2 separate regions of the Homo sapiens genome follow, and region 2 is linked to region 1. A link means that fine-mapping ties the variant in region 1 to the expression of a gene that starts in the linked region. Tissue or cell type: uterus. Region 1 holds a variant in brackets; the other region holds the start of a gene. All regions are shown on one strand. Distances are from middle to middle.

The links. PIP is the estimated chance that this variant, and not a neighbour inherited with it, causes the effect.
Region 2: it holds the start of ANKK1, and the variant in region 1 is fine-mapped to the expression of ANKK1 in uterus (GTEx, PIP 0.97).

What each region holds. Positions count from the first base shown.
Region 1 is chr11:114,298,209-114,306,294 of GRCh38, forward strand. The region is part of intron 2 of NNMT (nicotinamide N-methyltransferase); the gene reads left to right. Among named protein-coding and RNA genes, the nearest start is that of NNMT, 5.9 kb to the left of the region's middle. The variant G/A (reference allele first, on the strand shown) is at 3,702.
Region 2 is chr11:113,383,882-113,391,967 of GRCh38, forward strand. It overlaps ANKK1 (ankyrin repeat and kinase domain containing 1), which reads left to right and starts at 3,898. Exons shown (of 8, transcript NM_178510.2): 1 at 3,898-4,188. The coding sequence starts at 4,004.

The DNA of each region.
Region 1 (8,086 bases):
GTTGGCAAAAGCAACAGACAGATAGGGACCAAAGAGAAATCCAAATGGAGAATGAGTGGTAACGAGAGAGCGAGAGCAAGAGAGATGAGATAGGCCCATGTGTGTGCATGTTAGTAAATTTGTGTATGTGCACGTGCATGTGTGCACCAGAGTAATGGAAGACACAGGGAGAGGGTTGAAGAAATGGATACTGAGCAAAGAGGAGTAAACCCCCAAATTTTCCAGGCCTTTGGGGACAAGAGCAGTGTGCAGTCAAGTACCTTGGGACCTAGGTTTAGGACAGCTGCAAGTAAAAGGCTAACCCAGCTTCTCACCAGCAGCTTTTGGATGTCAGTGCTTGTCCCTTGCCTCACTGCCATGCTGCTGTAGCCATCCAAGCCTATAGAACTTGGCTGTGAGTGTGGCTAATGCTGACATCACCAGATACAACCAAAATCTGACTAGGTTTTTAAACTGAGGTAAGAAACATAAAGGAATTACTTGAAAAGAATTTATTAATCACCATCCATGAAAGTAGACTTTGTATACTTACAACTAATGGTCAAGATCTTACACTACCACATCTACATGTAAATTTATGCAAATGAATCTCATTTGTTCATGTAAATTTTAATTTCTTCCAACACGAGAAATTGGCAATAGCCTATTAGCCAGAGGTAGCCACGCCTGCAATTCACTGTCTTTCTCATATCCTTATGCACTTCCATCTTCTGCTGATTGTCTGACAATATCCAGTCTGTTCCCCAACTGACCATTCACTCCTGGAGCAACATTTCTCTGCTGCTATGCATATTGCTGAGACCCCACAGACTTCTTTGCAAGCTGCATAAAAAGATGAATGTTTGCAATTATAGTATCTGCAAATAAAAATAGGTTTTGTTCTTCTATTCCAACTTTATGCTTTTTATTTATTTTTCTGCCCTTATTATGTTGGCAAAAACTTTCAATACAATATTGAATAGAAATGATGACAGCAGACCTCTGTGCCTTATTCCATATTCTAGGATAAAAAATGTTCAATGATTTATCATTAAGTATATTAACTATTGGTTTTTCATAGATATTATTTATCAGACTAAGTTCTGCATTCCTAGCTTTTTTGAAATTTTAATCAAATGTTGAATTTTGTCAAAATTTGTTTGCATTTATTAAGATGGTCTTATGATTTTCCTCCTGTATTCTGAAAATGTGAATTACATTGGAAAATTTTGAATGTTACACCAAAGTGGCATAAACTACTTGGTCATGAAGTATAATTGAGCTATAATTTTCTTCTAGTGTGCTTCACAAATTTTGATATCAGCATGATGCTGGCTGGAGTCATAAAATGAGTTGGGAGTGATATCCCCTCTTCTATTTTCTGAAAGAGTTTGAGTATTATTAGTATAATTTCCTTCTTAAATGATTGATAGCATTTACCAGCGAAGCCAGGTGAATCTGAAATTTTTGTGCGAGAGAAGACTTTATTAAAAACAGTATTTCTTTAATGGTTACTTGGATTTTCCGTTTGTTCTTTTGTCTGTTTTGGTAAGTGGTACTTTTCAAGAAGTTTGTCCTTTTTATCTTGGTTGTCAACTTTATTGGCATTTTTTTTTTTTTACAATATCCTTTTAATACCTTATTATGTCTGTAGGATCTGTAGTGATCTCTCCTCTTTCATTCTTGATATTGGTAATTTGTCTTGTTTTCTTTCTGTTGTCTTGATCAACCTTGCTACAGATTGATCATTTTATTAATCTTTTCCAAAAACCAACTTTTGGCTATGTTGATTTTTCTCTATTGTCTGTCCATTTTCTATTTCATTGCTTTCTGCTCTTATTTTTGATCACTTTCTTTCTTCTAGTTATTTTAATTTTAATTCTTTTCTAGTTTACTTTATTTTTTTCTAGCTTTCTAAAATGTCTTGTTTTTAATTCTTCTTTTAGCTTCTTAAGTTGGAAACTTATATCATTTATTTCACATATCTCTTTTTCTAATGTAGGCATTTAATGCTGCAAATTTCCTTTAGCACTGTTTTAACTGCATCCCATGATTCTTGTATGTGGTATTTTTATTATTTTCAAATTCAGCATATTGTCTCATTTCCTTTGTAATTTCTTTTTTGACCATGAATTATTTAGAATTATGTTGCTTAATTTCCAAAGTATTGGGATTTTTCTAGCTATCTTATTGTTATTGCTTTCAAATTAAATTTTGTTGTAGTCAGAGATTTATTTTGTGGCTCTGCATATGGTCTATCTCAGTAAACGTTCTATGTGCTTTCTACATTGAAAAGAGTGTATATTGTTCAGTTGTAGATATAGTTTCTATAAATATCAATTAAGTCAGGCAGGTTGATAGTATCATTCAAATTTTCTACATCCTTACTGACGTTTTGTTTACTTTCTCTGTCAATTACTGAGAGTGTTAATGTCTCAAACTATGATTGTTGATTTATCCTTTGCTCCCTATAGTTCTGTCAACATTTGCTATATGCATTTTGACACTTGTTTTTAGCTCTGTTATATACATTTTTAGGATTGTTATGTCTTCTTGATGAACTGACCACTTTACCATTGTGAAATATCTCCCTTTATTTCCAGCAATGTATTTGTCTTGAAGTCTACTTTTTCTGATGTTAATATAGCTACATCACCCTTCCTATGCTTGCTGTTTTGCATGGTGTGGTGGGCAGCCTCTAAGATGGCCCCCAATAATCCTTGTGTCAGTATTTTCACCTTTGTGTAATCCCCTTCCCTAGAATATCCACTGGATTTAGTGATTCAGTACTGACAAGTTTGGTAGAATGCAGCATAGTGATGGGATATCAATTGTGATATTAAATTAAAAGGACTACAGCACCACTACACACCTATTAGATCTAGGCCAGAATCTGGAAGACTGACAACACCAAATGCTGATGAGGCTGTGGGGAAAGAGGAACTCTTATTTATTGTTCGTGGGAATTAAAAATGGTGTAGCCATTTTGGAAGACAATTCGACTATTCCTTGCAAAACTATTCAATCTAGCAGTTGCACTCCTTGGTATGTAACCCAGAAAGCTGCATGTATTACACTCCTCAGTATGTAACCCAAAAAGCTGTGGTATGTCTACACAAAAAGCTGCACACAGATGTTTATAGTAGCTATATTCATAATTGCCAAAAATTGGAAGCAACCAAGATGTCTTTCAGTAAGCGAATGAATAAATAAACTGTGGTACATTTAGACAATGGAATAATATCCAGTGCTAAAAAGAAATGAGCTATCAAGCCACGAAAAGACATGGAGGAAATGTAAATACAATTACTAATTGAAAGAAGCCAATCTTAAAAGGCTACATGTATGATTCCAACTATATGACATTCTGGAAAATGCAAAACTAGGGAAGAAGTAAAGAAGATAAGTGGTTGCTAGGGGTCGGGGAGGGAGAGATAAATAGGTGGAGTATAGAGGATTTTTTAGAGCAGTGAGACTACTCTGTACAGTACTATAATGGTGGACACATGTCATTATATATTTGTCCAAATCCATGGAATGTACAATACCAAGAGTGAATCTTAACGTAGATTACAGACTTTGGGTGATAATGGTATGCCAATGTAGGCCTTCTGCTTGATTTTGCGGTGAACCTAATATTGCTGTAAAAAACAAAATCAATTTTTAAAAAATGACAGCTTTTTATTGGGTATTCTGTCTCTATCTCACTCTCTTGTCCTGGG[G/A]AGTGAGCTTGGAACCAAATTTCCCCCAGTTGAACCAGAAAAAACAGAGAAATAAGTGTTTGTCATTTTTAGCTGCTAAATTTTGGGGATAATTTATCCTGCAGTTACATATAACTAATATACATGATATATCTACATATCTTTTTCTACCCTTCTGTTTTCAGATTATGTTTTCTCTTTTTAATCCAGACTGACAATTTCTGCCTCTAACTGGATTGTTTAGTCCATTTACATTTAATGTAATTACTAATATTACAGGGTTGAATTTAAATCTACCATCTTGGTATATGATTTCTATCTGTCCCATCTGATTGTTGTTCACCTGTGTCTTTCTTCCTGTTTTCCCTTGGTGAATGCAGTAATTTTTAGTATTCCATTTAGTATAAGTGTACATATTTTTAGTATTTATTTTTTATCTCCCCTGTTAACCTCTTCTGTGTCTTGTGTGAGTTTGTGTGGTTTTTCTAGGAATTGCAATATGCATCCTTGACATATCTATTGTCTCATGAAGGATGTAAGATATTCCAAAAGTGTAATTTCCTTAACCGACTTTCCTGGCCCTTATGTTCTTGTCATGTATTTTATTTCTATGTATAACACTATAATACATATATTGTTATTAGTTTTGCTTTAGTTAGTAGTGATTTTATTTATTTTTATTGTCTTATTTTTAATTTTGATTTTTAAAATAAAATTTACCATCTTTACTATGTTTAAGTGTTAGTTGAATAGTGTTAAGTATAGTCACATAAGTCAGTATACAGTTTTAAACAATGTATATAACAATATATATTAAACATAGGAATTTTGGACTGAATGTTTTTATCCCTCCCTCCCAATTTCTGTGTTGAAATCCTAACCCCCTTATGATGGTATTAAGAGGTCGGGGCTTTGAAAGGTCATTAGGTCATGGAGGTGGAGACTTCATGAATGGGATTAGTGCCCTTATAAAAGGAACCCCATAGAGCTCTCTAGCTCTCCTTCTGCCATATAAAGGTACAATGAGAAGTCAGCTGTCTGTGGCCCAGAAGAGTCCTCATCAGACCCTGACCAGGCTGGCATCCTAATCTCAGACTTCCAGCCTTTAGAATTGTAGGAAATAAATTTCTGTTGTTTATGAGCCACCCAGTCTATGGTATTCTGTTACAGGAGCCCAAACTAACTAAGGCTATATTATGCATATATTTAAGATCTTTTATATTTACCCACATATCTTTCTTCTCTAGTGTTTTTCATTCCTTTCCCAAGATCTGTTCTTCTGTTTGGCATCATTTTCCTTCACCTGAAGAACTTATTTTAGTATTAGTTATAATGCAGTTCTGCTGGAGACAAATTCTCTTAACTTATCAAGTCGGGTAAAAAGTTAGTAATTGTTTTCCTCCCTGCTAACTTGAGGAATTTAACAATTTTTGATAACCAAAGTCCCCTGGCATCTCTCTTACCAGTATTTATTATTGAAATCTGAGATTTTAAAGTTCAAATATTGTAATTTAAAGTATTATTTTTATATTTTCTTTCAAGATCAGTTTGGACATTTGCTTTTGGTTTGTAATCAAATTTAGAATTATTTGGACATATTTGGTGCTCATTTTATACAATTTTTCTAGATATTGAGTCTTTAATTTTGGTTCATCTGTCAACTGAATAGATCTTCAAATATTTATTTCAAGAGGAACATACAGTGACGTGTTTTCTAAGTCCATGCATATATGAGAATGTATTTTGTCACTCTTACACATGAACAAAATCATAAAATTGTTTAAATATTGCCCCACTTTTTTTCTGACATGTAGTAAGAAGTTGAGAGAGGCTATTCTATTTTTTTTAGACAGGGTCTTGCTCTGTCACCCACACTGGGGTGCAGTGGTGAGATCTCACTGTAGCCTTGACCTCCTGGGCTCAGGTGATTTCCCACCTTAGCCTCCTGAGTAGCTGGGACTACAGGTCCACACTGCCATAGCTGGCTAATTTTTTGTAGAGATGGGAGTTTTGCTCTGTTGCCCAGGCCGGTGAGAGCCTATTTTCATATGCATTTTAACCTGTATACCCCTGACTTAGAATTTTATATTGGCTATAGCCTTCAAAGTGGGGCTATATTCTTCAATATAAAAATAATTTCATACACCTTTTTTTTCTGTTGACTATGTGATTCTACAGAATGAAATTGATATTAACTAGAAACAATTGCAGCTATGACAATTTGGACAATATCTAAAGTTATTTAGTAAATAAGGAAATTCCCAGGGTTTGTAGAATCTCAGGGAAACTTTGTAATAAGTAAATAAATCTTCAGTCACTGTTAGACAACACACCTTGCCAAAGTCCAAATCATCTGTCAAGAAGGCCTTTGAAACTTTGTTCTCACTTTCTGTATCCACCACCGGCCTTTCCATCTCATTCAAAAATAAACCCTTACAATCTAGCAGGATAGTAAAAGCATTACTTATCTCACACCTGAAATGTCAGCTTGGAACAACTAGCTCTTGAGACACTGTCCCCTCCCAATCACTCTGTTGGACATTGCATTTTTGGCAGTAAATTTCTGCATTCTTATCCTTATCCTTGTGCTAGATCCTGTGGCTTTAATTATTTTAAGAATGATAATGATCCTATGCAACTCATGTCTTTCCTGCATCTTCAAGTAGCTTTATCAACCTACAACCTATTTCCTTCAAGATGATTTCTTCTTTATCTGAAGTTTTTTCTTGTGCTAAAGGCTGCCAAAGACGTATGTACTGTCTCCTGTTCTTCTACCTCTGCATTTAAATACCACTCATTTTAAATTAGCTGGCCATAGTGGTGCACACCCGTATTCCCAGCTACTGGGGAGGCTGAGGAGAGAGGATCACTTGAGCTTGGGAGATCGAGGCTGCAGTGAGCTGTGGTCACATTCCAGACTGGCTGGCAGAGTGACACTCTGTCTCAAAAATAATAAAAAATAATAATAAAAATAAATAACCCTCATTTTTACAACTATCCAAAAAAGTTTTAAGAAAGTCAAACACTAAGATACAATTACTCAAGCTTATACAATGAACAGAGGAAAATGAGCTCTTTCCTTAAGAAATTGTAGAAGCTGCATTACTTAACCTATGGTTCCTGGAACTTGGAATGCATAGCTTAGGCTTGTGGTCCCTGGACTAGTAGTTTGACAACACGTGGGAGCTTTTAGAAATGCAGGCTGTCAGGCCCCACTAGCTACCTACAGAATCAGAACCTTCACTGTAAGATCTGCTAAGGGTGGTATGCACATTACAGTAGAAGAAGCACTGGTGTCTGGAGCAGGGCTTCCCTCTAGGTGTGCCAGGGCACACACACAGGTGGGTGGGAATCAGTTGCAGGCATGCTGTCCAAGCTGTTTTCCTTGGCCCTCTTGACAGCAGGTGGGGCATGGACCACCTCCTGGTTGCCTCTGTAGAGAGTGGCTCCTCCTTTTTTTTTTTTAATTTTTTATTATACTTTAAGTTCTAGGGTACATGTGCACAACGTGCAGGTTTGTTACTTATGTATACATGTGCCATGTTGGTGTGCTGCACCCATTAACTCGTCATTTACATTAGGTATATCTCCTAATGCTATCCATGCCCCCTCCCCCCACCCCACGACAGGCCCCGGTGTGTGATGTTCCCCACCCTGTATCCAAGTGTTCTCATTGTTCAATTCCCACCTATGAGTGAGAACGTGTGGTGTTTGGTTTTCTGTCCTTGAGATAGTTTGCTCAGAATGATGGTTTCCAGCTTCATCCATGTCCCTACAAAGGACATGAACTCATCATTTTTTATGGCTGCATAGTATTCCATGGTGTATATGTGCCACATTTTCTTAATCCAGTCTATCATTGTTGGACATTTGGGTTGGTTCCAAGTCTTTGCTATTGTGAATAGTGCCACAATAAACATATGTGTGCATGTGTCTTTATAGCAGCATGATTTATAATCCTTTGGGTATATACCCAGTAATGGGATGGCTGGGTCAAATGGTATTTCTAGTTCTAGATCCCTGAGGAATCACCACACTGACTTCCACAATGGTTGAACTAGTTTACAGTCCCACCAACAATGTAAAAGTGTTCCTATTTCTCCACATCCTCTCCAGCACCTGTTGTTTCCTGACTTTTTAATGATCACCATTCTAAGTGGTGTGAGATGGTGTCTCATTGTGGTTTTGATTTGCATTTCTCTGATGACCAGTGATGATGAGCATTTTTTCATGTGTCTGTTGGCTGCATAAATGTCTTCTTTTGAGAAGTGTCTGTTCATATCCTTTGCCCACTTTTTGATGGGGTTGTTTGATTTTTTCTTGTAAATTTGTTTAAGTTCTTTGTAGATTCTGGATATTAGCCCTTTGTCAGATGGGTAGATTGTAAAATTTCTCTCCCATTCTGT
Region 2 (8,086 bases), 910 kb before region 1:
CCCATTTTCTAATTTGATGCTTTTTTAGCATTGAGTTTGAAGACCTCCTTATATACTCTATGAACCAGCACTTTGTCAAATATGTGCTTTACAAACATTTTCTCCCCATCTGCACTCTTCTCTTCACCTTCACCAGGTCTTTCACTGAGTGAGAGTTTTTCATTTTGATGAGGTTCAGTTTATCAATTTTCCCTTTTATGGATTGTGCCTGTGGGATTCGGCCTAAGAACTTTTCATCTAATCCTAGGTCCAGAATATTTTCTCCTTTTTTTTTCCTAAAATTTTTATAAGTTTACATTTAATATTTAAGTCCATGATTCATTTTGAGTTAATTTTTCAGGTGTGAAGTATCAGCTGGTTCATATTTTTTGCCTAGGAGTATTCCTAGTATATACCTAAGGAATGTAACCTTTAAAAATATACCTAGTATTTAGATATATTTTATGGATGATAATCATAATAACCATTCCAAAAGGTTGCTGTAAGAATTATAACCTTTAAAAATATCCTAGGTATATTAAACTAATATGATATTATATTGTATTTTTATGTTATATTAGTATAATATTATACTAATATACTAGGTATATTTTTAAAGGTTATAATTCTTATAGCAATGTTTTGGAATGGTTATTATGATTATCATCTATTTTACAGATGGAGAAACCCAGAAAGATTTGATAATGTGACCAAGGTTAAACAAATGCTAAGTGATAGAAAGAAGCCAGGGTTTAAATGCGGGTCTGACTGACTGACTCACTCCCACATTTAAACCCTGTTCCTATTGCCTCATTCAATCCCTTTCACTCTGGGAGTCCTGCTTCCTGAACAGATGTTCCACTTTCCTGCATACATTCCTTTATCCTGACCAACCTCAGTACACAAGCTACCAGAGGCTGGGGCCTGCCAGAACCTGTCCAGGGTTCTCCGTGACATGTTTGCAGGGTGGAGAACAGGGGCAGACTGGGAAACTTCCCTATATGCAAATAGCTTGTCATTCCGGTTTGGGGAAAGGCTCACATCAGATTTCAGCATCTTCTAAAGTATTGCAGAGCTCCTGTACCAGCTCACTTGTCTGGGAGGAGCAGGCTAAAAATCTTAGGTTCCCCAAAGACAATCACACATACACACAAAATTCATTTAATAACTCCAAATCCAGAACACTTCCATCTTCAATCTGCCCAAACAAAATGCACTGATAGAGGTTAGTTGGAAGGACTCAGAGCATTTTGGGGTAAAACTTCTATAGCTAGAACCTGTTCCTTGCCCCTTCTGGTGGGTGGGGGTCATAATTGGACTATAACCACTTCATTATCCATTCCCATTTGTAGGTAGATATGGGTAAAGGTAGAGTTTCCCTCCCAACCCCCCAGCTCTCTCCCCTCCACACACTGGCTGCTGACTTCCCAACCAGCCAGGACCTAGGGACTTCTGCACTCAGACCACTGGAAAGAAACCAGCAGCCTCTGAGTTGACTTTACTCTTTTGCAAATCCCTATACCTCACCCCACTTTTAATGAGAGATCCAGGAGTTCTTTGCCTCTGTGACCTTATACTCAGAAAGGGTCCCTCCACTTACAACTTCTCCCAGAGCTTATCCAAAGACTACTAGGCCTTTGCCCTAGCCCATGTTAGACAGCTGTAAGGAGCAGGACAAGCCCAGTCAAATGATCCAGTCCCTCTGGGTCAATGAATGTATCTATTTTGACTGACTCCTCAGAAGCCTCAGGGGTGCTTGAACCCACAGCAGAGAGTTTCAACAGGTGGGTCAGCAGTAATACGCCCTGACCCTGCAGTTCCTCCACCTCCACCCCTGTGAGAAATTCAGAGGTATTTTGTTCGGGATTCTGGCAACATGCCTTGAGCCCTGGGTGTCCCCTCTTCTAGGAATGATGCTTTCTTCAGTATTCCTGTGACAGTCTCTGCAGGCAGACAATGGCAGCTTCTGGTTACTTCCTCTCCCTGGAGAGCCACTTCAGGTATAAGTGGATCAAGGGGAACTGCTGAAATGACTCAGGCCATTCACCCTTGGTATTTCCTCCAGGAGCTGAGATAGGTCTCGCTGAATGTCAAAGATCGGGCCTCAGTCAAACTTCCGCAGAGCTGGGTGGCTGGTCACCTTCCCAGTCTCCATGTTCACCCTCCCAGTAGAAGGTATGAAACATCCTCTTGACCTCCTGGTCTCCCTGATGACAATGTCCTTTATCACCTTCCAAACTTCTCTGGCAGAGGCTTTAAACTTGGGCAGGCAGGGCTACTCCAGAGACAATGGGTTCTGTTATGCCCTGTCTTGCTCCAGCCAAAGCAAGCTGGGGGCCTCCCTCTGACATATGTTTGGGGGATACGTCCTGCTCCTGATGCAGTTTCCATCATCTCCACCCTCTTCCAGGGAGCATGACTCTCTCTCTTCCTTTTTTGTATTCATAAAAGGCTACTCCCTGATCCTCCCCTGGCCAACCATTTCCATAGAAACTAAGAGACTTGAGTTTGAATATCAACTACCACTTACTAGCTATGTGTCCATTGATTACTTATTGTCTTGAAGCCAGTTTCCTCATCTGTGAATAGAAGATGTTGACCTCATAACATTGTTGCAAGATAAACAGGATAATATATGTAAAGCAATGCAGTAACTGAAATAGTCACTGATCCTGGAACAAAGTGAGTGTTCAATTAGTAGTGGCTATCACTAGTTTCTATGACAACTGTCTCCAGGCCCAATCTTTGATCCTTAATCTGCTTGCCAGAATTCATCCTGGAAGTTGCAGGTAAGTTGTTACAGAGGGAGCAAGTTCTCCAGCTTCCACAGGGAGTCTCTGTTTGCCTATCATGCCTACACTGTTCCCTGGGAGTCTGGTGGGCTTGTGGCATGGACGAGGGGCTCTGCAGGTTTGGGCTGAAGGCAAGGCACTTCCTTGTCTGGTAGGTAGGCTCCTCAAACCTAACAGTGATCACTCTGAGGGCTCCTTGTGGACTTACTCAGCTGTAGGCAAATAGTGGCTGACTCTGCACTCCGTGGCCACAGTTCCTCCAGGTATGCCTGTCTCTGGGCAATGGCCCACTTGGTCAGTGCCCCTGGGGAGACCTGTCTGTTCAAGCACTTGTCATTTTCCCTGCTCTGAGGGTCTCCAAGGTGAGAGGGCAATCCCATGGACCCAGGACCCAGGGGAACCTCCAAGCTCAGCACTGGTCAGGCTCCAGCTAGAGCCTCCTCTCATCCCTGGCAACAAACTGCCCCTAGTAACTGCGCCAAGGAGGCCACCTCCCCCGTGGCCACCCCGAGGCTGGGGTCCATCCCTCTGAGGTTGGATAGAGCGCAGCCCAGGAAGGGAGTCCCCTGCAGACAGGAGCCCAGCCTCCCCCGCAACTCTGTCCCTGCTGACCCCTCCTTGGTAACCTATAGCACACCAAGGCTGGCTAACAAACAAACAAACAAAACCCCAACAAGAACAAAGGAAACATGAAACCAGTCAGACCAACAGATTCAGACCAGAAAATCCCCATTAAAATTGTTTGAGCCCCATACTTGCTGGATAGGGGCAGGGGTCCAGGCCTGAATCCTTCATAAACCATAAAACCTTGAATGCACTGAAGGAATGCATAAACCGATTTCACTTAGCGCTGGGCCTAAATAAACTGGATCCAACTTCTCAGGCTGGACTTCTTCCAGCTTCGGGACACCTTCTCCCAGCATCCCTCCCTAGGGGGAACTGGGGAAAATCAAAGGCTGAGACAGGGGAAATGCGAGGGCTTCGGAGGGACATACCCTCTTCCCCAGGCCCAGGTCGCTCCATCCCTGCTGGGGCCTCAGGGCTCATGTCTGGGATTTCCCCACCTTTGCGGGGCAGGAGCGGCTCCTCTTGGGCGGGGAAGGAGGCAGGGCCGGCTCGTCTCCCCATTCCCCTCTCCCGGACCCGAGGAGCAGGAAGCGGCGGCTCCTTCGGCCACCCAGGCAGCAGCCACAGCGGGGAGTGCGCGGCGCGGGGACAGGAAGAGAGGGGCAATGGCTGCCGACCCCACCGAGCTGCGGCTGGGCAGCCTCCCCGTCTTCACCCGCGACGACTTCGAGGGCGACTGGCGCCTAGTGGCCAGCGGCGGCTTCAGCCAGGTGTTCCAGGCGCGGCACAGGCGCTGGCGGACGGAGTACGCCATCAAGTGCGCCCCCTGCCTTCCACCCGACGCCGCCAGGTACTGCCAGCCTCGCCCTCCCCTTTCTCGGAGGAGAAACTGAGGCCCGGCAAGCTTTGGGCCCAGGGAGCTTGCGAGGAAGGAGTGGGCTGAGTTTGGGGCTGAGGACTGTCCCCCGCGGTATTTCTGAATTCCACCCAGTAGCCTGAGCCTCCCAGGCACACCCATACCTGTCTCCCTAACCAAAATAGAGTTGGCACATAATACCTGTTTGTAGACTCAACAGAGGTCAAAGGCAAGCGGGAACTACCTACCAAAGACGCCTTTATCCCATCTGACCTTCCGAACTTGTCCTGCCTGCTTCCATCCTTCTCTCCAGCGCCTTCTTCCCCCGGTGTCCTGTGGCAATAACTGCTCTTGACCGCTCTCTGCCATCCTCCTACCCACCCCAGCTCTCAGGGCAGGGCTGAGCATCCTGGGAGGCTGTGGCACTTTGCTCAGATCTGCAGGGAATCATGTTCTCTCTTCCCACGGTGGCGGGAGGGAGGAGGCCCCTCCCAATCAGTGCAGGCTGAGGAGGTCAGGGGATGGAGACTGCCCGGCCTGATGGCCTGTCCAGGCCCTTGGAGGGTCAAGTCTGGAGTTCTCTCATCTCTGTTTTTGTTTTTGTCCCTTGCTGTCATGCGCACTACAGCGACGCCTTGACATGCCCCTATTTTTCTCTTCCTACCTCTTTCCTACGTTTCCATTATTCTCTGTCTTCCCACTGATTTGGAATCCAGTCTCATTCCCACTGGAGTTGCATATACTAGCTGTGTGCTTGCACCTTGCAGCCATGAAGAAGACACTCGGGATGTTAAACCTGAGCATGATAACCATGTCCTCCTCCCAAGGCTCTGGGACATCAATTAGAGAGTCCGGGACGGGGGTCTCTCTGACTGGCATCTGGCTTGGATGCTATCTGTGGTTCTCTAGGATTACCATGCAAACTCTTAAGATACAGCCTCAGGTGCCACACACTCAGTTCCCAGGCCTTCCCCCACCTTATGAGGAGAGGAAAAATAAGATCGCCTAAGGCCCACTCACCTTCCTCCCTCAACATCTGCCTGTTGGTTTTGGAGGAGGGTCAGAGTATGCTAGGATTTGTCTAAATCATTTATAGCCTTTTGAATATAGAACGAAAGGAAACAGATGGCAGTGACATGATTACACTGTGAGACATTGATGCTAACTCCTGCCACTTTCCCTTCCCAAGTTCTGGGAATTCCCTGGGTGGAGGGGGTAAGATAATTAATGGTAATTAAGACTTAGTATGTATGGATTACTATACTAGGAGCTTTACGTGCATTACTTTACTAGATCCTCTTTCCAGCTATTCATTCATTCATCCACTTGACAAATGCTTACTGCTCTTCTACTATGTGTCAGGCACTGTTCTACACCCTGGGATTAACGATGAATGCAACAGATGTGTCCTTTCTCTCCGGGAGATTGCAGCCTAGGGGGAGGAAGACATTAACCAGATAACCCCACATGTAAATGTAAATGTGCTACTGTGAGAAGCTTAAGAAGGGGAGATTTGTGGCTCTAGGAGAGCTCATTAACAGAAAGTTTGACTGATATCAGAAAAGGCTTCCTTGAAGAAGTTACACTACAGCTGAAATGTGAAGAATGAGTATAAGTTAAGTAGGTGAGGAGGAGAAAGTTTTCCAAGAACAGACAACAGAGTGTGCAAAGAATCTGTGGCAAGAGGGGCATGGTAAGTACAAAGATGGGAAAAGGCCATGATGGCTGGAGTTGGGAGAGTAAAAGAGCAGTGGAAAACCACTGAGCATTTACAACCAGGTAGCGGTGGTGACCATGGGAGGGATTAATCAGAATTGCAGTATGGAGAATGCATTGGGAGGGGTAGAGTGGATTCTGGTTAAGTTAGGAGATTGTTATCTTCATTCTGATGAGAGACGGATAATAGGGGCTAGAGTGGAGTGTTGGTAGTGGAGATAGGAAAGGAATGGGTCAAGCCATATTTAGAAGGTAAAAATCCACCCGACTTGGTGCTGGATTAGTCATGGGGAGGATCACGATGAGGAAGAGGGGTATTAAAGCTAACTTGATGTCTGGCTTGCCCAAAGGAATGGAGGATCCACTAAAATGTCCACTCCATGAGAGTGTCTGTTTTGGTCACAGCTCTGTCTCCTGTGCCTGGCACAGAGTTGGTGTTCAATAAATATTTATTGAATGGCAGTGTTGACAATTAATGGAGAGACTATGAAAAGAGGCCTAGACTTGGAGAGGAAGATCATGAGTTCAGCTTTGTACCTGTTGAGTTTCAGATGCCTTTAAACAACCAAGAAGAGTTGTCATGGACATCAGAGTAAAGGTTGGTGCTAACAATATTAAAACTTGGGAGTCATTTGTTATAAGTGGTCATTAAAACTAGGGCATCAGGCTGGGCCTGGTGGCTCACGCTTGTAATCCCAGCACTTTGAGAGGCCAAGGCTGGTGGATCACCTGAGGTCAGGCAAGACCAGCCTGACCAATATGGTGAAACTCCATCTCTACTAAAAATACATAAATTAGCTGGGCGTGGTGGTGGGCACCTGTAGTCCCAGCTACTCAGGAGGTTGAGATAGGAGAATTGCTTGAACCCAGGAGGCAGAGGTTGCAGTGAGCCAAGATCATGCCATTGCACTCCAGCCTGGGCAACAAAAGTGAGACTTGGTCTCAAAAAAAAAAAAAAACAAAGCAAAAAAAAGGCATGGAGGAGATGCATTCATTCCAAGCACTACGTGAAAAAAACAAAGTCCTTGCCCTCATGAAGCTTATAGTCTAAAGGAGGAAGACAAAATAAATAGCAAATGAATAATAAACTTTTTAGCTATAGCACTCATGACCACCTGACAGTTCTTGATTAAAATATCTAAGAAGGGTTGAGAAGTCTGATTTTCCAAGAAATGGGTTGGTCTAAAAATATTAATGCCAGGGCCCTCTGTGTATGGGGAATATAAGAGTTGGAATGGGGTTGCTTTTTTATGTAGACTTCTCTGTGAAATCCATACTAATTAGGTACCATTTGAGTAGAGATTTGAAGGAAATGAAGGGGTAATCCATGTGGCTCTGTTAGGGAGGAGTGTTCTAGGCAGAGAGAACAACAGGTGCAAAGGTCCTGAGGTGGGACCACACTGGGCATGGTGGAGGAACAGTGGGAAGCCCGTGTGCCAGGGGCACAATGAGAGGAGGGTGATTAGGAAAGGAGGTCAGCAAGCTATGCCTGGCATTGGGGACAAATCTTGTAGGACTTTCTCAGCCATGAAAGAACTTTGGCTTTTACTGTGAATGAGGAGAGCCATTGGAGAAGGGCAGTGACATGTTGTGACTTAGATTTTAAAATATGACTTTGGCTGCTGGGTTGAGAATAGATTGTGGAGAGGAAGCGGGAGAAACAGAGTCCAATTAGGAGGCTTGGGCTGAGATGCACCTTGGGGGAGAGGTGGTGAGAAGTGGTCAGCTTGTTGCTCGACAGTATTTTGAAGGTGGTGCTGGCAGGATTTGCGAAGACTTGGCTGTGGGAAGTGAGAGGAAGAAAGGAGTCGAAGATGACACCAGGGTCCTATTCTGAGGACTAGAAGGACAGAGGCCCCATTCACTGAAATGATGAAAACTAAAGGAAGAGCAGGTTTCAGGGGAAAATCAGGAGGTTAGCTTCAGACACATTTGGTATTGAATATCCAATTGGAGATGATGAGGTTGACTATAGAAAGATTATAGAGGGAGAAGAGCAGAGAAGAAGGGCTTGGACTAAGCCCCGTGGTCAAGTAACAGGATATGAGCCTGCAAAGAAAACAGAGAGGAAGTGACCAGACAAGTAGGAGAAAAGCAGGAGAATGTTGACACGTGGCTCAAGTAACGAAGTTTCAAGAAAAAGAGTCAGAGATCTGAACTATACACTGAGAACTGA